Regions from separate parts of the Homo sapiens genome. Here region 2 is linked to region 1. The links come from fine-mapping of genetic effects on gene expression. Tissue or cell type: whole blood. Region 1 holds a variant in brackets; the other region holds the start of a gene. All regions are shown on one strand. Distances are between the middles of the regions. Region 1 holds the start of GRK5 (G protein-coupled receptor kinase 5). Region 2 holds the start of SFXN4 (sideroflexin 4).

Region 1 (11,729 bases):
CAATATAGGCTACCATGCAAAACAATTGACTAGCTTTAGGCATGTCATCACCTGATAGATGCTGGTCATAAAGAGACCACAAGTGATGGTCTGGATTCTTTCCTTACCTATATTAACAGGAAATCATTGGCTTTTAAGTAAATTACTGGAAAAGGGGCCGGGCACAGTGGCTCATGCCTGTAATCCCAGCACTTTGGGAGGCCGAGGTGTGCGGATCACCTGAGGTCGGGAGTTCAATACTAGCCTGTCCAACATGGTGAAATCCCATCTCTACTAAAAATACAAAAAATTAGCTGGGCGTGGTGGCAGGCGCCTGTAATCCCAGCTACTCAGGAGGCTGAGGCAGGAGAATCACTTGAACCTGGGAGACAGTGAACCAAGATGGCGCCATTGCACTTTAGTCTGGGCAACAAGAGCAAAACTCCATCTCAAAAAATATATATAAAAATAAGTAAAAATTACTGGAGAAGAGGTTATTTTTCCTTCACCTACTCTGAAAGTACAGAATTAATTTTTATATTTTTACTGTGTAATTTCCTTGCCTATTTGAACATTTTTCCTCCATCTAAATCTATTGATTGTTTCATCACTGAACCAAACAAAAAAGTGCCCAACTTTCTGTGTGCCATTTTTGGGTTAAACATCTCATGTTTTACTCAGTCTGAAAATGGAATCGAAGTTGGTTTGCCTAGTTTCCTTTAAAATTCTGGGACCAATTTAACTACTGGGTTGATTATAGGAGATGCCAGGTTCGAGGTCAGAGGTACCATCAGAGAGCTGGAAGTTCCAGGGACTGACAGTCTGCCCTTGACTTTCTGTAACACGTTGACCTCTGACAGGAGACCAATCTCCCCTAATTTTTTCCCTTTTAAAATCTGACCTGGCAGAGATGTGGGAATTTTGATAGTTACCTAATATAGCAAAACTTAGCAGCCAGGAGGCCCAGGTGGGGCTGAGTCATGCCATATGGGGTATAAGTCAATAAATATGGCCAAATGCTCCCTGTGTCAGGCATGTACTAGGTTCAATAGAGAAGAGAATCAAAAGATGAAAAAAGACACATTTTAGGCCTTTGAGTAGGGAAAGCAGACACCTAAATAGCCTCACCATCCACTTAATCAGTTGGCCTTGGGCAGCAGACCTCCTAATTCTCTGAGGCTCAGTTGCCTCTGTATACAATGGAGGCAACAATGTCTTTCGAAAGTACCTGCCTTGGAGGATTGGATGAGGTTCTGGGTATAGTAATGGGATGGGTACTGGAGAAAGGTGCACGGACTGAAAAGCTGTCTCATTAAACTTTGTAACACATCTACTGTGGGAACCCTCCTGACTGAACATGGCACCAGGGAAGGAGGACTTTCCTTTTCATTAAAGAAGACTGTGTTAAATTGCTGTAGTGATGGGAGTTTGGCAACCACATGTGGCTGAGACAATCAGCAGGTGTGTGCATTTCAGCAAGAATCTTCTTTTCTGAACTTGCAGTTGAGAATTGATGCAAGACAAATGATCCCACAAAATCTTGTGACCAAGCTAGGTGGTTAGATGTGTATAGGTAATAATCACCTGGCAAAACCAATCGATTCATTAAGATTGGCCAGTTCATCTGGAAACCAAAGGCTGCAAAGACACCACGTGTTGCTTGGAGATTGGTTTTCTCAAGCATGACACTTCTACTACTCCTCACATTTCACAAATATTATTGGTTAGGATGAATTAAAGTTTTCAAAGTGAGCTGACTTTAAAGAAAAATATTGGCCGGGCATGGTGGCTCACACCTGTAATCCCAGCATTTTGGGAGGCCGAGGTGGGTGGATCACTTGAGGTCAGGAGTTCAAGACCAGCCTGGTCAACATAGTGAAACCCCACCTCTACTAAAAATACAAAAATTAGCCAGGTGTGGTGGTGCGCACCTGTAATCCCAGCTACTCGGGAGGCTGAGGCAGGAGAATCGCTTGAACCCAGGAGGCAAAGTTTGCAGTGAGCCGAGATCATGCCACTGCACTGTAGCCTGGGCAACGGAGCGAGACTCCATCTCAAAAAAAAAAAAAAAAAAGAAAAATATGAAGTCACTAGAAGAGCAATAGGCAGTTTACAACATGTTAAAACTTTTTCTTTTTTTTTTTGAAACAGAGTCTCGCTCTGTCGCCCAGGCTGGAGCACAGCGGCACCATCTCGGCTCACTGCAACTTCTGCCTCACGGGTTCAAGTGATTCTCGTGCCTCAGCCTTCTGAGTAGCTGGGACTACAGGCGCACGCTGCCATACCTGGTTAGTTTTTGTATTTTTAGAAGAGACGGGTCTCACCATGTTGGCCAGGCTGTTCTCGACCTCCTGACCTCAGGTAATCTGCCCACCTTGGCCTCCCAAAGTGCTGGGATTACAGACGTGAACCACTGTGCCCTGCCCATAGTAAAACTTTTAATGTCCAATTGATAACCACTGAGGTCCATTGATGAAGGGAATTCAGAGGGGAGGAAATGTTAACTGGAAACCTCAAGCCTCCAGATTTGCTTTCAGCTCACATTTCTCCTCTTTTGGTGCCTGAAATCACTTCTTCCCGTTTGCAAAGTCCTTTGTGTGTGTCTCCACAATGGCCCTTATTCCATTGTATGGAGGTTGTTTGCATCCGGTGTGTTTTCCTTCCCAGTGGCGAGCTCCCTGGGAAATTGCCTTGAACTCCCTGCAGGGCTGGACACAGAAAGGTAAACTCTGAAGGAGAAGAGGATAAATGAGAGAATGGAAGCTCTATCTGCAGCTGCTTCCTGAGGATTAAAAAGCTTTGAGTCAAGGAAAGGAATGGAAACTCCAGTTCCTGGACTATTCAGAAAGCCAATTTGATTATTCAGGCAAAAGGAATCTATATTTTAGAAGGCCGATAGGTTTGTGGCTTTCCAGCATAGTAGACTTCTATTTACAAGAACTCTGACCCAGCAGCTTTATTCATGGCAGATACAGGTGCTGAGAGAAGAATTTGAAGGTTCCCTGTTTCTTTTGCTTTTTTATTTTTTAGAGACAGTCTTACTCTGTTACCCAAGCTGGAGTGCAGTGGGGCGATCATAGCTCAGTGCCACCATACCTGGCTAATTTTTAGGTTTATTTCGTAGAGACAGGGTCTCGCTATGTTGCCTAGGTTGGTCTCGAACTCCTGGGCTCAAGCGATCTCCACCCCCCCATCCCCTGCACCCTTGCTTTAGCCTCTAAAAGTGCTGGGATTGTAGGCATGAGCCACTGCATCTGACTTCTTTTGCATTTTTGGCTCAGCTGCTCCTGAGTGGAGTCTGAAGCTGGCTGTCTTTGACATATTCCCATCCCTCCATCCTCACCCCCACTCCTCCATTTGGATTTCCCTTCTTGCTCTCAGCTGGCTGTCAATGATTCCCTACTTAGCTATTTATATTTAATAGCCTACTCTTCCTTGAATCAAACCCATTTTTCAAGAAGACCACGAGTTGTTAGTGCAGTTAATTGAAAGGAATAAAGCCATAATGGTGGAATTATAGATGAAAATGGAAAACCCCTTGAAATCTTAATGATTTAGTCAACTGGGTGCTTTGCCTTCTTATAATACAAGTTCATCCCGGCAGCCACACAGAACAGTTACTACCAAGCTGTGCTGGCTAGCTTGCGCAAGCCAGAAATTAAGTGCACCAACTCTGAGTCAGGCTGACAGGTTCAAATCCCGGGTCTTCTACTTATTACTTATGTGACCCTGGACAAATTATAAAACCTTTCTTTTTTTTTGAGGAAAAAAAAAAAGTCTCACTCTGTTGCCCAGGCTGGAGTGCAATGGCATGATCTTGGCTCACTGCAACCTCTGGCTCCCGGGTTCAAGTCATTCTCCTACCTCAGCCTCCCGAGTAGCTGGGATTACAAGGCACCTGCCACTACACCCAGCTAATTTTTGTATTTTTAGTAGAGACGGGGTTTTACCATGTTAGGCTGGTCTCGAACTCCTGACCTCAGGTGATCTGCCTGCCTTGGCCTCCCAAAGTGTTGGGATTACAGGCGTGAGCCACCGTGCCCGGCCTATAAAACCTTTCTTAACCTGGTGCTTTATCTATAAAATAGGCCTGTGTTCCCTACCTCATCTGGATATTGTGTTCAAGGAGATAATCCATTTAAAAGACCACAAGAGCCTGGCCCACAGTTGGTGTTGAGTAAATGCTAGCCATTATTGTTCCATTCTTGCATTGGAGTGTCTGAATTTCCTCATAGAGGCACAAAAACCTGATGTACAACCATGTATTTGTGTAGGCAGGATGCAACAGCTTGTAGTGGACAAAAAAATAGTCTAACACTAACTTGCTGAGTGACCATGCCAACTCACTTACTTTGGGTCTGTTTCACATCTGTAAAATGAGAGGGAGAGGCAGGGGTTCCCAGGATGGAAAACTTAAATGTCTATACAGGCCAGATAAATAAAATCACTAGTGACTTGGGCTGGGTATAAGACAATAGGGAGTTACGGTAAACTAGAAAGCTTTTCAACTCTGAGTGTGGTCTACTGACCACGAGGATCGACAGAGCCCTGGAGTTTGTTAGAAAGAGCAACATCTCAGAAACCACCCCAGATCTATCCAAATGCAATCTGCATTTTAACAAGATCCCCCGTGATTTGTATGCTCATGAAACTTTGAGCCAGGCATGGTGGCTTATGCCTGTAATTCCAGCACTTTGGGAGGCAGAGGCGGGTTGGATCACTTGAGTCCAGGAGTTCAAGACCAGCCTGGCCATTATGGCGAAACCCCGTCTCTACTCAAAATACAAAAATTAGCCAGTCATGGTGGCACACACCTGTAATCCCAGCTACTTGGGAGGCTGAAGTACAAGAATCATTTGAACCTGGGAGGCCGAGGTTGCAGTGAGCCGAGATTGGGCCACTGCACTCCAGCCTGGGTGACAGAGTAACTGTCTCAAAACAAAACAAAACAAAAAAACAAACAAAAACAACCTTTGAGAAAATTGTTTTTTTTTTTTTTTTTTTTTTTTGGTTCGGAGTCTCGCTCTGTCGCCCAGGCTGGAGTGCAGTGGCGCGATCTCGGCTCATTGCAACCTCCGTCTCCCGGGTTCACGCCATTCTCCTGCCTCAGCCTCCTGAATAGCTGGGACTACAGGAGCCCAACACCACGCCCGGCTATTTTTTTTTTGTATTTTTAGTAGAGACAGGGTTTCACTGTTAGCCAGGATGGTCTCGATCTCCTGACCTCGTGATCCTCCCGCCTCGGCCTCCCAAAGTGCTGGGATTACAGGCGTAAGCCACCGCGCCCGGCCCAAGAAAATTGTTAAGGTGCATAAGCCATCTAAAGGCATTCAAAAATTTTCTTTCTTTTTTTTTTTATGTTAGCCGAATAAACAAACTTCGGGCTTCATCAGGCCCTATGCTGCCAGCAAGTGACCAGCGTGGTTGGTGGAGGGCTCTAGGAGCTGCCAGCTTTAGGGGTCTCGCTGTCTGAGAGAGATCCTTTCATTAAAGGTTAGGGCTCTAGGCACGTGAATATGTAGCAAAGACCAAGCCTGGATTGCTTAGAACAGTAATTCCTGGAGTGGTAAGTGCCTGAAAAGTTACCCGCTGAGCCCTCCGCCTTCTGACAGGTAAACTGTTGTTGCCCCCATTTTGCAGACAAGATAAATGAGGCCCTGGGAGACTCACTGACCCAAGTCTAGACACCAGGAAGTGGTGGTGGTGGGTATACTCCCCCAGGAAAGCAGGTAATCTTGGGTTGTTACAATCAGTGACCAGACCAGTTTCCAAGGCCTGGAAGGTTTATTGATTTCTTTATATTCTCCAATGCATAATAACTGTTCTCTGTTTCTCTCGGCACCTCCCTGCGACTTCCTGGCAGCCCTGGGGACAGAGGGTTTCCTCCTTCTGGACAGAGAAGGCCCAGAGTCGGCTTCTGAACGGATATCCGGCCCGCAGGATGCAGAGGAGGCAAAGGCCTCATTGTTCTTTGGGGCCTGCCTGCCCCGCCCCCAGCTGTAGGACACTCGTGGCAGATCCCGGGTGACCGAAGACAGCCCATTTCCAGGAGTGGGGCCTTCGGAGCGGAGGGAGCAAGGAAACGGGGCTGAGCACAGACCTGGAGTCTGATGTTCTGAGCATAACACTGGAAGGAGCTAAGAGCCCCAAAATAAATAAGACCGGAATTTAAAAACGTTAATCCCACGCCGGCTTGGCGCTGGCCTGGCTGTTACTCATTAACGCTCCCCACGGCGGAGACTCCGGCGACTCCGTCTGCGTTTTTATTACTTAATCTGGCTGGGTTTGGCTGCAGGGAGGCTCGTGGATTTGCTGGCCGGGTGTGCTGGAAGGCAGTTTATTCACAGAATAAGCAGCTTCCCACGCTGGACCCTGAGCCCCAGGCGCCGTCCGCGTAGACCCCGCGCCGCGCACCGCGGCCGGCGGGGGGCGCTCGGGTCGCACCGAGAGCAGCGCGGGCAGCCAGCGCCGGGTCGCAGCCGACCCGCAGAGCCCTTCGCGCCCTCCGAGGAAACAAAGTGCATCTTTGTCCGCGGCCCGAGGCGCCGCGTGGGAGACGCTGGGCAGGGGCCAGGCCGGGCCGGCCGCCGCCGCGTGCGGGGACCCTGGGCGCGCGTCACTGACCCGGGACTCAGACCCTCGCGGGCCTGGCGCGGACCGGAGGAAGCGGGCTG[T/C]GGCGCGCGGCCGAGCTGGCAGCCCTCCCACTCCGAGCACGGCTCGGGACCCGCACTGGCTCCTGCCGGGCCGCGGCGCTTCACGCGCCGTCACCGGGGCCCGTGCACTCCGCTTTCCGGGCTGGCGACGGGGCGGGAAGGGGGCAAGCGGGAGCCTGCGGGGGGGTGCTGGGGACTTCGGCTTGGCTGGGCCGCCTTTGAGTCGCCTGTCGGCCGGGCGGTGCCCGCCTTCGCTTTCGGTGCCGTCCCGGGGCGGGTCCTCGCTCCGACAGCCGCGCGCCAGCCCAGCTCAGCCCCGGCGCCGCGCGGCCGGGAGGACTCCAGCTCCCAGCAGGCCCCGCGCCGCGAGCACCGAGGCAGGAGGCGCGCCTGGGCCGGCGCTTGCGCAGTGCGGCCGCCCGAGCCTGCTAGTACCACACCCCCGGGAGGGACTGAGGGGAGGCAGAAGCATCCGAGGCATTAAAGCATCCGAGGGAGCCGGAGGGGAGGAGAATGGAGTGACAGAGACACGCGGAGGGTGGGGGGTGGGGGGGAGCGTGTTGAGGGAGGGGGGAGGGGGGACACAGAGGGAGGAAGAAGCGGCGGCGGCGGCGGCGGCGGCGGCGGCTCCTCTTTGCAGAGGGGGAAACTCTTGGGCTGAGAGCAGGAATAATGCGGTAGGCAAGGCGGGCTGCTGGCTCCCCCGGCTCCGGCAGCAGCGGCGGCAGCCCGAGCAGCGGCAGCAGCAGCGGCAGCACCCCAGGCGCTGACAGCCCCGCCGGCCGGCTCCGTTGCTGACCGCCGACTGTCAATGGAGCTGGAAAACATCGTGGCCAACACGGTCTTGCTGAAAGCCAGGGAAGGTAAGAGGCAGGGCCGGTACGTGCCCGGCGCGTCCGCCGCGGGCCAGGGTGCGGGTGTCGGGTGGCGTGCGGGCTGGGGCTGCGCCCGTGCAGGATGCCCGCTGCCGGCGAGTGGGTCGCGAGCAGGACACTTCGGAGAGCGGCTCTGCAGACCCTTCAGGGTTCCTGCCTTGGGGCTCAGAGAATCTGGACTTGGGCTGAGAAGGTTGCAGGGATTTGGATGCTAACATATCTCCTAGTTTCCAGCGCTCGCCCTGCAGAGCGTGCCATCTCGGCAGCTGTTGAAAGGTCAGTTGGAAAAGCATTCATTCGGGGAGCGACGAGCAAACATGCACATAAAATAGCGTTTCAAGTCGGCCCGGGATGGTTCTGTGTGAACTGGTGTGTGTGTTCGAGGGGCGGGGGTGGAATGAGCAGAAGCCAAGTCTTTGCCTGCGCAGGCTGAGTTGATATAGACTATTGCTGGAAACCATCCGCTGGGATGTTTCTTAGGGAAATCCCGTCGTGTGGAAGGAAGCCTTTTAAAGGCAAAGTCAGATGTTGAGGAATTAGCCTTTTCATAGAATTATCAAAGGATGGCTGTACAGACCACCTAGAAAATAATTCAGTATTTCAGGTTTTTCTTTTCTGGGAGTGTGATAACTGAAATTGTTAGATTTTGGCTCAGTTAAGAAAAGAAAGGTAAGTGTGCTGGTGCTTTAGATACGTTTTCTATGCAAATCATTAGATTTCCTGCATTTAGCTGGCAGGAAATATTGTCTAAATGGAGTGTGTAAGATCCTGAGTCAAACCCTAAGAACGCATATTTTGACTCTTCCTTTTGATGAAAAACAGAAAAAAGGGGGGGGAGGCAGAAACTTGGGTGCTTCCTGAAATGATTGTGTTGTGTCCATGTAAACATATGTATTTAGGAATACCTGGAATTTATGTCGCATATTTTCCTTTTTTTTTTCTGGTCAAGATTTGAGCTCTAGTGTGCGACCTTTTTCATAAAAGGGGAAGAGGTTTTTCCCTTTCACGGGAGAACGCTTTATTTGATACAAGGTAGAAGGCAGACTGAGTAAGGGCTTGAGTTTAGAAGGATACTCGGTGAGCAGCCCATGAAAATGTCTTACCTGCTTAATATTTTCATTCACCTACTTTGATGAATGAAGGGAAGAATTTCTGGCCAGCAATAAAACGATTCGTGTTTATTCAGCCCGTTCCATCACCTTGTGGCTCCCTACACACTGTGGGGGTAGGTGATGCATAGCCTTCCGTGGGCAGCGTTTCAGCAACTCAACCCGGCATTCGTGTCTTACTTTCGTCGTCACTTGTCACTCTAAAGCAGCCAGTGGGCAAGAAGGTTTATTTCAGAAGCCCCGAAGGGAGGCAGTGCTTTGAAAACCCCAGCAGAGTTTAAAATATTCAGGTTAGTCTCCCTCCCATTGCTTAGCTTTGGTGGGAATAAATTTTTAGGAGAGGCTTGTTACTTGGTGACTTCAGGTTCTAAGGCCTGAGCTGTGTGTGTGTGTGTGGTTTTTTTTTTTTTTTTTTTTTTTTTTTCCTAACCTGACATTTTTAGTGGACAGGATCTAGGTGGGTGCTGGTAGGCTCTCCTCTGGGTTGGGGAATGGTCCTGAAAGGGAGGAAGCAGAGAAAACAGCCCTCCACCTCCCCCGCCCCTCTTTCAGCCTTTGCAGCTGGCCACCTAGTGGTGGGACACGGTTGTGTATCTCAGGATTCGGGGGCTGGGAAAGTTTTCACTCTCGCTCCATTCTGAAATTATTTCTTGGGAAATCACTGGGTCTGATGGTACTGGAGCCTTGCAAGTTTCGCTGGTTCCTCCTGTTGCCCAGGGAATCTGCCCCCGACATTTGCTGCTGTAGATATTTGTTTGCCTGATAGATGCTTTTTTTCTTCCCTGAGCATTTGGTTGCTTCTTTTATAATGCTTTGCTTAGAGTGGGCAAAGTGATATCAATTCCACCCGCCCCCTCCAAATTGTTCTCCCCAGTATTTTTTCACCAACGTGAATTTACTGTCTGATATTGTTGTTCGTTAGGCCAACAAATTGGGTTTTTTTCCCAGAGCCTTGGAGAAGAGAGCTGCAGGCTGGAAGCTTGTGTGGAGTGACCGACTCCCATTGGGGCAGAATTACAGTGATTGAAAGTGCTCAAGAATGTGCCTTTCACTTTTTTTTTTCCTTTTAAAGGCTTTTTCAATTTTGCTGTGAGAGTTTGGTCGTCATCTCATGGTGAGAAAATAGCTCTTGATGATGCCTTGGAAATGGAGAGGGCCTGCGGAAGCAGGGAGAGACTGACACGTGAACAAGAAAAATTAATCATTTAATGGAAACCTCATTTACAATTTGCATCTCTCCCCTTCTTTCTCTCTTATGCCTAGAGGAAAGCCATGATTTTAAGTGCTTCCAGTTTCTTTTGGCTGGGCCTTTATTAGAGACTTGAGCCCATATATCCTAATTAGTGTGGACACTTTTAGAAATTAAAGCAATTTATGTTTCTCTTCTCAGTTCTCATATATTTGAATTTATTTTACTAAACTTAGTAGTTCTCCAAATAACCATATTATCTAAATATTCAGAAATGAAATCTTCAGTCAGTTTAGTGAAATATCTAATATAAAACAGTATATTAAAAAAATCTGAGTTGTTTAAAAGGTTTAAAAACACTTCTTAAAGATTCTTGTCAGTGGTTACAGATGAGAAATATAATTGGCAAATGTGAAATTTAATTTAGTTCACTTAACAAAATACACCGTAAGCAATTTAAAATTTGGCTTTCAAGTAAAAGTCACATTTGTCCCAAACAATAGAGAAACAGACCTTGAAGAAAGACAGGCACACTTTGAAAATGCTGTAAAATAATTTGTAGTTGTCCATGTTGGTGGGTAACACTGGGACCTATCTTTTCTTTTTGTTTTGCATTAAAGACAGATGGCTCCTAAATTCACTGTATCTTCAAAGTCTTACCGTAATAAGACATAATATAAAGTGGAAAGCATTAATGTAGCAATAAAATAGAAAGCCTGTAAGTGGATTAGAGTAAAATGATGGATTGTTAGTAATTAGAAAATATAGCAAGCAAGCTTCATGAACACTTGTGATAATTATTTTAAAATAAGAAAAGGTAGAGGTATGGGTTCAAGATTTTGAACCACGGAAATGTATTTTGGGGCCTGTTTATTTGTCCTGGGTCTCATGAGAAAACATCAACTCGATCACTCTTAGGAACTTTAGATTGCTCTCCTAAAAAGTGCTTAAGGAAAAAAAGAAAGAAGTTGAGACTGAATTCATGGCAATTTATGGGAATGAGCTAAGTGATTAAGCATTTCATGAAAAAGAGGCCCAGACTAACTCTATCTATTTATTTACATTTCAGAATCTCAGAAAATTGGCAGGCGACCTAATGTTGAAATAATAATGAGAAGGAGAGTTTGCTGAGTGCCTTTTGTGTGTTTCTTTTTGGTTTTATTGTTGCAGTAAAGGTTTTTGTGTTTTTCTCATCTTCTAGATCTGTTGCCTTTCTTCTGAGTGAACAGTGGTGAGAAAAAATTTTGCAAGGCCCCGCTTTTCCTTTCTTCACAGGCCAGCAGTAGCCATATCTGATCAAAAAAGATACCTGAAGGAATATTGATCACATTTTCCTGAGGCCCTAGCAAGCACAGGAATTGAGAAGTTAGGACTGGAACAACTTTGTCATTTGTCACAATTGCCAAACATTAGAATACACAGGAACCGTTTTTTCAGGTAACTCTGTGACTTGGCTGGATCTTCCTGATCATCAAGATTAGCACCTCGGGGCCTGGAAGAGGTTAGGGAGGGCAGGAAGAAGGAGTGAGCCAGCATCCAGCTCTGCGTGGGGCAGGCTATGGCGTGGACAGACTTAACATTCCACAGCACGGCTGAAAGCCCTGGACCTCTTTCCCTTGCACCCCTAATTCATGGTGATAAAACCAAAACATGGTGAATTAGGTTATTAGAACGTTGGAACATCTCTGAAGCTCAAAGCCCTCTTATGGCTATGTGAAGGCATACGTGGAGGCATACGTACTCCACCCTGAAGCTTCTCCTTCAATTTTAATGTTAATCTTACCAAGCGACAGCTTTCATCCTGGTTAAGGCAGCTCGGTGTGTGTAAAAGCAGCCTGGCCTGTTAAACACAATGCCGTTAAATCAAACTGCCTTTCTTTTTTTTTTTTTAAAGTTTCCTTTTCAGTACTGACAACTTGGAGGT
Region 2 (10,408 bases), 39 kb before region 1:
CAGAACATTAAAAAGTCCTGTCTCTACCCTTGGAGAATACCAACACCTAACTTATCCCTCAGATGAGTCCCCGAATCCGGCTTGCCTCTGGCTCAGAGCAGAGCAGGCTGTGTGCTGATGACACACCATGCCATCAGTCAAGTTACTTGCAACAGAGCCAAGCTGTCAGCCCAGGGTCCCCAGCACATTCTTAGAAAAAGTTAAATATGTGAGCTCTCCATAGGCTGTCTTGAGGAGCTGGTGTTTGTGAGCTCCAGAAAGCCCCACATACTGCAAGGTAGATAAGGAACAGTCCGTTTGAGCCTATCGGCAGGAACGCTGCCTGCAGTGGAGAATGAATTCTGACGTCAGAGCCCTGTCTGAATTCTGGGGTTTGCCACTGGGCTCCAGGAATCAGCTGCAGGGAATCCCCACAAATATCCACTGTGTAGGAGGAAACTTGCTGTCTGGTTTATGGGACAGAATTCTAACTACATTTAAAAAACTAACCCAGTTTTGCAAAGCTGGTCCTCTGGGCAGTATATAACAATGACAGCATTAATAGCCAATAGAACAGTGGCTCCCAAGGGAAGGAAAAAAGAAAGAAAAGAGACGGAGACAGAGATTAATGGCCAAATTCCACCTGACTTCAGACCATGCAGGCAGAACCATCTGAGGGCAACCAGCCAGACCTGAGCACGTGAAACATACCCTTTGGTCCGCCGAGGCAGGGCTGGAAACATCTTCATTTGTGCACAATAGTTGCCTCGAGTTTTCTATACTTTCCTAAAATCAGATATCAAGTAATCAAGTAATGATCTCAACATTGTTCAGGTTTATCCCCAGAGGTAGGAATCACCAGCTCACTCACCAGCATGCACTGGACTTCGACTGCATGCCTGATTTCAAGCCACATGGTGCCCTAGGCTCTCTATCCATTAGGATAGCCCTGAGTGCCATTCAGATTTATGCCTTCCTCTTCCTAGATGCTCCAGCAGCTGCCCCCAATGGTGCTGTCACCTCCCCCACTCTCTGATGTCAACTGTCGCACTGAATGGTTACCACCATCCCCTGGCTATACATGTCAGAAACCTAGAAGTCCTTCTCCCTCACCCACTTCCATGTCTTATCAGTTCAGTCTTATTTCCTCTCTTTTTCTTTCTTTCTTTTCTTATTGTTTTTTAAGAGACAGGGTCTCACTCTGTTGCCCAGGCTGGAGTGCAGTGGTGTGATCATAGCTCACTGCAGCCTTAAACTTCTGGGCTTAAGTGATCCTCTTGCCTCAGCCTCCCAAATAGTTGCGACTACAGGCACAACCCACTACACCTGGCTAACTTTCTATTTTTATTTGTACAGATAGGGTCTCGCTACATTGCCCAGGCTGGTCTCAAATTCTTATTCTCGAGAGATCCTCCCATCTCAGATTCTCAAAGTGCTGGGATTATAGACATGAGCCACCACAGCCAGCCTCCATTTCTTAATTTGAGAAAAAATAAATACAAAAATTACAAAGAATGGCTACACACTATAATCCCCTCACCCAGAATTAACAACTGTAAACATCTGGTTATATTTGCTTCTAATTTTATTACATTTTCTTTCTTCTTTTTTTTTTTTTAAAGATGGAGTTTCACTCTTGTCACCCAGGATGTGACCAGTTTAGCCAGTCTGTCCTCCATCACGTGGAAGATTTGTTTGATTCTCTCTGAATCCCCAGCACCTGGCCTGGGCCTGATATTACCTGTTAAACAGATGTACGCTTTTCTTTTCTTTTTTTGCTGGGGGAAGGGGATGGAGTTTCGCTCGTCACGCAGGCTGGAGTGCAGTGGCAAGATCTCGGCTCACTGCAACCTCCACCTCCTGGGTTCAGAAAGTGATTCGCCCACCTCAAGCCTTCCGAATAGCTGGGATTACAGGTGTCTGCCACCACACCCAGCTAATGTTTGTATTTTTAGTAGAGACGTCGGTTTCACCATGTTGGTCAGGCTGGTCTCGAATTCCTGACCTCAGGTGATCCACCCACCTCGGCCTCCCAAAGTGCTGGGATTAAAGGCATGAGCCACGGCACACGGTCAGATGTACGCTTTTCCTTACCCCTTCCAATCTGACAAGCTCATTTAGAAGGAATAAACACAATAATATATGTAGATTCTGTTATTTCAACTGCTTTTAAAAGGGACACGTGGGCAGGGCCTGAGGTCGGGAGTTCAAGACCAGCCTGACCAACATGGAGAAACCCCCGTCTCTACTAAAAATACAAAATTAGCCGGGCATGGTGGCGCATGCCTGCAATCCCAGCTACTCGGAAGGCTGAGGCAGGAGAATCGCTTGAACCTGGGAGGTAGAGGTTCTTGTGAGCCGAGATGGTGCCACTGCACTCCATCCTGGGCAAGAAGAACGAAACTCCGTCTCAAAAAAAAAAAAAAAAAAAAAAAAGGGACACACAGACTTCAAGTTTCAAAATAAAATGTGAAATTCATTAGCTCTGAAAACAATACTTACAACTGAAATGAACACATTTGTAGGATCTAATAATTCTGTCCATTGAAGAAATCGTCGAATAAAGGACTTAGGAGGGAGAAAAGCAACAGAGAGGTTAATGGCAGCAGAAAAATAAAGATATAAATACTAACAGTTGGCTTTTTTTTTTTTTTTCTGAGAACCTGCCAGGGTCTGTGATCTGCCTTTTACTGGCATCATCTCCTGGGATCCTCCCAACCTCTCCAGGTTCTCCAGGTGAGGAAGCTGAGGCTTAGAGGGACTCCTGAATGTACTCAAGGCAACACAGCCAGGAAATGATTCAGAAGTCTGTGCCCTTAACCTCTCAGTATCAAATTGCCCTTGAGGGTTAAAATCCCAGACTTTGGGGGTTCAAATGGTCTTACGTTCATATCTCACATACGACCTCGAAGCAATGGCCTAGAATATCTCAAGAGTCTGTGGCCTCACTCTCTGCTTGCTATAAGGCTTCACTCCAGTGACAAAGGATGGACGCCCCATTAAGGGCTCAATGGTGCAGCTGGGGTCACACTGGGGAAAAAGAGGTTTGCTCCAGCAAACTCTAAACTTTGTAGTGGTTCTGGCTTTAAGCCTTGGCTCTGCTGGAGCAACCTGAGCTCACCGCCCCTTCTCAATTTCCCCACCTAAAAAAAAAACAGGGCTGGACCCCACTTTAGGAGAGGCCTCAAAGAGAACCCCCTAAAGCCCTGCTCTCCAATTCGCCACATGCGGCTGAACCCAGATGTGCTGTGAAGGTAACAGACGCCGGATTTGGAACACTCTGTACCAAAAAAGCGAGTAAAATATCTCAGCAATGTTTTTTACTGATTACATGTTGAAATGTTAATATTTTGCACCTGCTAGGCTAAATGTACTGTATTGTTAAAAATTTCAGCTGTTTTTATCTTGTTTAATGTGGCTACTAGAAAATGTTTAATTACCTGTAAGGCTCACATCATATTTCTATTGGACGGTGCTGCCCTAGACGCTGCAGGGAGATAAGTCCTGCTTATGTCCTGCCCAAGGGTGGCTTCCCAAAGCCTCGGGGGTCTCACCGAAAGTGGCTGAGCTTACCAAGGTGCGAGAGCCTGTTTCTCCCCAATCTGCTGCTCAGCCACAGCTCAGGCAGTAGGGAGCAGCCACCTGCGCGGACTGGGCCCCTCCGAGAGGGCAATCTGGAGGGTGACGTTGTGGTCGTGGGCATCTGGCAGCTTCGATTTCCCCTGCGTCCCCTGCCGCGCCCTAAGGGGTGAAGGCCGGTGGTGCGCGTTCCCGGCACAACTCCGAGAGGAGGAAACGGAGACAGGGGGCGCCCACGTGGCCTGGCCAAGGTCACCCGGGTCAGCCCGACTCCACGCGGCCCGGCCCGCCCCCTCCCTGCCCCTAGTCGCGCCGGGCCCGGGCCGTACTTGGCGCTCGGTGATCCAGAAGCGCACGTTGGGCTCAATGAAGGCGGGGACGGCGTCTCTGCGTCCTAGGAGCCGCCCAGGTTGCGTTTCCTCCTCCTGTTCCAGGGACATTTTGCGCTGGTTAGAGTGGCCGCCGCCGCCAGGCCGCGCGTGGAGGAGGAGCCGGGCGGCGAGCCCCGCCCCGGGCCGCGCGCACCCGCAGTTCCCGCCCCAGGCCCGCGCGCCCGACGTCCCGTGTCACAGCGCCTCGGGGCCCTTGCGCGCCCACTGTTCCGGCGAGCGCAGCTCTCCCACGGGCCACGTCCTCCCAACCCTGCTTGCCCTGCTCCGCACCTTTGGGGAGCCGGGCCGTCTCCAGGCCCCAAGGGGTCACTATCGGAACCCGTCATCACAGTACCTAATGCGAAGACCCGGAAAGGTTGTGAGTGAGGCCGTCCGCAACCTCACCCTGCGCTTCTGCCGCGCCCTACCCCTGGTCATTACCCTCGAAAATCCCTCCGATGGCCCACGAATTCCAGTGTGCATGGTGTTGCGCAGTCAGGCCGGCTGCATCATGGTCTCAGCCCAGGGAAAATGTCAAATGCGGTGCCCCTTATTCATGTTACTGAGAATTTCAAGAGAGTAACACCAGAGCATCAAACCAAGTATAGGGCCCTGGGCACAGTGCACTATCCCTCAGCCCAACAGGTTGTTTTTTTTTTTCTTCCAGTGTTGGGGCAAATCCAGTTCCTTTTGTTGACTACCAAATAGGTACCATTTGTAAAGAAAAACCTGCCTTCCCTTCCTCCTCCCACCTGCCCTTCCCCAGCACAGGGCCAGGCGGGGGCTGTGTGCACTTAAATTCACGGAAGCCACAAGTGTGCCTAGGTCGTTCAGGGGGCCTCCGGAGTCCAGGACTGGGGGACCCAGCACATCATCTAGTTGTGTGACCCTCGCCAAGTCAGTATCTCGAAGTCTATTTTCCCATCCGCAAAATGAGGATAACAATTGTACCTATCTCAGGGTTTTGTTTCTGATCAAAGGAGATAAAACATCCCTAACACAGCACTGAGCCCTCAGAAGTGCTCAGTATTGGCCATTAACCTCCAGCGGGCCAATTCCTTCCCTTGCCCTGCGCCTCCAGGAACAGGAAATTGGCTCATGGCGTCCTTCAGGCCTGTATGACTCTGCTTCTGTATTTGCTCAGTTTGCCTAGCTCACTTTTCTTAACCTCCAGGGGTTTATCTCCTCTTCCAGGAAGCCTTCCCTGACCCTCCGAGTTGAGTAAGGTGCCCCCTCCACTTCTACCCTTATGCCGCAGAAATCCATCTAAGCACCAGTGCAGTATGTAGCGTGCTGTTCTATTCTGTTGTCTCTACCCTCCAGGATGTCACAAAGCCAGCCCGCTGGCCTGCTTCCCCACTTTGGACTGCTATGTCGTCTTAACAAAGGAGCCAGAGTGATTCTCTTAGAACAAGTTGATGTCACTCTTCTTTTCAAATCCTTCCTGACATTCCCCACCCCAGAACAGAACCTAAAGTCCTTGGCCTGGCCAAAAGGCACTCTGGGACCCCCACCACAGCCATAGTCACCGGCCTCCTAGTAAATCTGCATCCGCTCTGAGCCCACTCTTGCCTCACGGCCTTTGTGTTTTCCCTGCCCTCTGCCTAGAAGTCTCTTATCCCCGTAATACTCTCACTTTCTACGCGTTTTCTCTCCCTCGATGCTCATCAAAACCCTGAGATAAGTACAATTATTGTCCTCATTTTACAATGAGAAAATTGATCCAGAGAGGCTCTCCCTTAAGGCCTTCCTTGACAACCCCATCTAGAACACCTACAACTCCGCTTCAGCAGTTTCACTCCACATTATTTTCCTTCCAAACACTCTACTTTTACTACATGTATGAGGTGTTTCCCCTCTAGAATGTAAGAGCTTAAAAGCAGGGGTTTGTCCGTTGTTCGCTCTTGTGCCTGGAAAACAGCACCTGGTGCGGGGTAGGCACTCAAGGATTTACTGAAACAACGAGAAAATGTTTCCCTATCTGTCTTGCCCCTAAACCGAGTTCCTTGAGTGCGGAACCAGCATCTTATTCTCTTTGTGGCCCCTGAGGTAAATGCTCAATAAATGTTTGTTGATAATCTGAGAAGGAAAGGAGAGCCCAAAATAAGCTGATCCAACAGTTACTGGTGGTAAAATGCAAATGTTTTAAAATATGTTTATTTTGTATGTTTTACAATGAATACTTCAGCAAAGAAAATAATTATAATTTCAAAATGCAATCCCTGGATTTGATAAATATCCTTTATAATCGATTACACTAATCAATATCTAGAAATATACATAGACAAAGTTAGCTAATGAATAAAATAAGTAAAATGACTACATAAACTCAATTTCAGGGATGAGGGATCATGCATGATCAGTTAAGTCACTCTGCCACTTTTTAAAATAATACGATTCACATTTGCTTCAATCACATAAACATTCATTGCAGGAGTTACACGGCTAATCATTGAAAATTATGATCTTTGTTAGCTTAAAAGAAAATTCAGTTTAATACAAAGACATTCAAGATGAAAATTTCAGGACCGTTGATCAGAAGCTTTCAATGTGTGTTGCTCTACTTTATTATAGGCAAGATTCAAGTAAGGCTAAGAAAGAAGAGTGTTTCCATTGAGACATGATCTAAGAATAGCCTTCTATAGAGGCAAATTATGTTCTGTAGAAACTAGCTAGCCAGCCACCAAGATGTTACCAATAAAGGATTCCTTGTACTAGCAACTAACCATGTTTAAAAGGTCTTAGCCAGAATTACAAAAACAAAACATTTAGAGTAATACTTATGAATACAAGCATAATTGGTTCCTTGCCTTCTACAAATAACCATCTTGAAAATGATAAAAGCAGGTTTCAACTGTGGTTCTTCTCTCAGTTGAGAAGGTGCAGATACACATGGGTGATCTACTGATTTACCTTCTGAAAGTACTCTTTGGAAGCAGCTGGACTTGGCTTGATCTGAAAATACAAAAGCTTAATTAGGTAACTGTGACTTTACCATAATAATAGTCCCAAAAGTGAGTGGCAATCTCCCAATTTTTAACCTAAAGTTCTTTAAACTTTTAAAGATTTCCTTTAAAACATAAAGATGAAAGTTTCATTAAGGCCTGCCTGTCTCTAGGCCGGGCACGGTGGCTCACGCCGGTAATCCCAGCACTTTGGGAGGCCAAGGCGGGTGGATCACGAGGTCAGGAGATCCAGACCATCCTGGCTAACACGGTGAAACCCCGTCTCTACTAAAATTCAAAAAATTAGCCGTGGTGGTGGGCGCCCTGTAGTCCCAGCTACTCAGGAGGCTGAGGCAGGACAATGGCGTGAACCCAGGAGGCGGAGCTTGCAGTGAGCTGAGAGAGCGCCACTGCACTCCAGCCTGGGCGAGAGCAAGACTCCGTCTCAAAAAAAAAAAAAAAGGCCTGCCTGTCTCTGATAATTGGTTCCTGGCTCCCCACCCCACCCCCTCTACCCCACAGCAGCTTCACCCATTTGCATATCATCTGCACGCTTGCTTCAAGAGTGGGCTCCCTTTTGTGGATATTTCAGGTCAATAGCTCTCGAGGCTGAGAGAACATGGACCTCACTGCTTTTGGGGAAAAAAACCTACCGTAGGAGAATCCGGTGTCCAGTTCGCTGGGCAGACTTCTCCATGTGTTTCTACATACTGGAACGCCTTCACCAAGCGGAGGGTTTCTTCCACGCTTCGGCCCACTGGGAGATCGTTGACGCTCAAATGCTTGATGACTCCATTGGGGTCAATTATGAAGAGACCTCTGCATGATCATTTATCCTCATCAGTGCCTCAACAGTACCAGAACTAGAACAGTCTAACTTCTTCCCTTTTAGGTCTTTAATTCTCCTTTTAATAAAATATTTATTAAGCGTAATCATATGCTTAAAGGTGGGGTTTTCACTGTTGTGCAAAAAACTTATCATCTCTTACTGATGACAGATGCTTTAACAAAGGCAGTACTGGACCAGGTCACCATAAAACATGCAGTATGGTCACACTTACAAGTTCACATAGTGCCCTGAATGTTACACAGTATCGGAAAGTCACTGAACTAGAGAGAGCAAAGACTATTAGTGACTTGGCAAGCATTCTTTGAGCTGCTGTATCACATCTTGGCAAGAAACTTATAGGCAAATGGGAAGAGACAGAGGTGTATTTTATCTAGGTTCAACAACTGTTTATTATGAATGAATTATTGGGTAAATGGGGGGAAATCCCACGGGAAAAATCTTCATAGAAAGAATGTACAGGCTCTAAGTCTATGCAAAACAGAAAACCATGCCCATCACTTTTAATCATGTAGCAGCATGTAATGAGATGAACCACGCTACCACAGTGGTCTGTGTTTATCTTCTGTGTTGGTGTTACTGTGACAGATGCAGATATGTTTAGCCTAGAAGTTTTTTTGGTTGTTTGGTTTAAATATAGGGTCTCACTGTATTGCCCACGCTGGAGTGCAGTGCTCTTCTCAGGTGTGATCACAGCAGGCTGCAGCCTCGAACTTCTGGCTCAACTGATCCTCCCACCTCAGACTCCCAAGTAGCGTGACTATAGGTGTGTGTCACTGTGTCCGGTTATTTAACCTACAGGTTTTAACAGTCTGTCTTAAAAGGATGTGGAAATTTCAGGTATCAATCACTCATGGAAAAGGCAGGTTAGAGAAAACTCAGGATAAAAGATGCTTCTCCCTCCCTGGGTCAGGCACTGGGAGCCTGGGGTTTGAGGTGAAACTGTTCCCAGAGGGTGCAGCCAGCTGAAGTCCACCAATAGAAGGTGAGGCAGAGCTGGGACAGAGCAGGGCCCATAGACTCCCAAAAGTCTTTATCTTATAAGCCAGACTCAGCTTCTCTCTCTTGTTAATCTCAATATTAAAACGGGTACAGAGGTAACTGCAAAATTAGTGAGTTCTCATAGGGAAAGGGACCGTAGGAGAAAAATAGCCAGTACCCTTTCTCTGGCCATTGACAATTCTGAAAGACCTAGGCATTCGTTTGATAATCTCTTTAAAGTTTAAAAAAAAAAAAATGGTCTGCCAGGTGCGGTGGCTCATGCCTGTAATCCCAGCACTTTTGAGAGGCCGAGGCAGGCAGATCACGAAGTCAAGAGTTTTGAGACCAGCCTGGCCAACACGATGAAACCCCATCTCTACTAAGAATACAAAAATTGGCCGGGCGTGGTGGCGTGTGCCTGTAATCCCAGCTACTCGGGAGGCTGAGGCAGGAGAACTGCTTGAACCCGGGAGGTGGAGGTTGCAGTGAGCCGAGATCACGCCACTGCACTCCAGCCTGGGCGATAAAGCAAGACACCGTCTCGAAAAGAAAAGAAAAAAAAAAAAAGAGAGGAAAAAAAGGCCCAAACTCTAAGATGCCACTCAGCGCTAAAACCCAAGGTGTAACCCAAGAAAGAGCAGGCCAGAGGTCACCTACAAGACAGGCAGGTGAGCTGGCTTTGTTTGTTTGTTTGTTTGTTTGCTTTTGAGACAGAGTCTTGCTCTGTCGCCCAGGCTGGAGTGCAGTGGTGCGATCTCAGCTCACTGCAAGCTCCACCTCCCAGGTTCACGCCATTCTCCTGCCTCAGCCTCCCGAGTAGCTGGGACTACAGGCGCCCACCACCACGCCCAGCTAATTTTTTGTATTTTTAGTAGAGACGGGGTTTCACCATGTTGACCAGGATGGTCTCGATCTCTTGACCTCGTGATCCACCTGCCTCGGCCTCCCAAAGTGCTGGCATTACAGGCCTGAGCCACCGCGCCCGGCCAGGTGAGCTGGCTTTAAGCTGACCAGCCCCCAGCAAAACTGTGAGGCACAGCACATCAAAGGGGGATCCCCTCTCTTCCTTCCTGGAGGTCAAGTTCTGCCCTATCCCTCCTTCACTCCTATTCTCAGCAGACTTCAAGATGCCAATTCTAAGACCCAAGTTCTCATCCCTCCCAGGAAGGTTATGTTTGAATGTGGGGCTGCTGAGGACTGAAAGCTTTTCACACTCAAAGGAATAAAGGTTTAATAAGGGACTGAATACAGATAGAAATGATGTTCTGGGGCAGAAATCCTAACAACTGCTGCCAGTAACTATGCTAAAAACTCTAGCTGTGTCACTATTTAATCCTCACACCCACCTGTGACGTACCACCTCATTTTAGTTATGGGAAAACTGGGGCTCAACAAGGTTAAATCAAATCAGTTGCCCAAAGTCACACAGCTATTAAGTAGCTGAGTTAAAAAAAAGAAAAACTCAAACCAAGGATTGTTTGGTTCCAGGGCTGAAGATGGTCACCATTCCAAGAGACTACCTCTTACCCTGCTAGTCCCCCCTTCTGCAGAGTCTGATGGCTTCAATGTCAGGTGTGTGTCCCCATGGAAGTGGCTCCCACATAGTTAGGGAGTATGGAGCAGTGTGGCCTCAAGACGCAGCCAGCCTTCTTCAGAAAGAGACCCAAGGTGGTGGAGGGGACATGCATGTCTCAGCATTTCTGAGA

The links.
Region 2: it holds the start of SFXN4, and the variant in region 1 is fine-mapped to the expression of SFXN4 in whole blood (TOPMed, PIP above 0.99).

The regions. Positions count from the first base shown.
Region 1 is chr10:119,200,475-119,212,203 of GRCh38, forward strand. It overlaps GRK5 (G protein-coupled receptor kinase 5), which reads left to right and starts at 7,097. Exons shown (of 16, transcript NM_005308.3): 1 at 7,097-7,495. The coding sequence starts at 7,444. GRK5-IT1 (GRK5 intronic transcript 1) reads left to right here and starts at 7,947. Exons shown (of 2, transcript NR_186528.1): 1 at 7,947-8,176; 2 at 11,007-11,729. RefSeq lists enhancers at 5,604-5,683, 5,794-5,843, 5,864-5,973 and silencers at 6,314-7,143, 7,354-7,423, 7,474-7,523. The variant T/C (reference allele first, on the strand shown) is at 6,654.
Region 2 is chr10:119,161,650-119,172,057 of GRCh38, forward strand. It overlaps SFXN4 (sideroflexin 4), which reads right to left and starts at 4,065. Exons shown (of 14, transcript NM_213649.2): 1 at 3,888-4,065; 2 at 2,482-2,547; 3 at 691-765. The coding sequence starts at 3,998. It overlaps PRDX3 (peroxiredoxin 3), which reads right to left. Exons shown (of 7, transcript NM_006793.5): 6 at 7,528-7,693; 7 at 6,071-6,884. The coding sequence ends at 6,831. RefSeq lists silencers at 3,516-3,702, 3,744-4,213.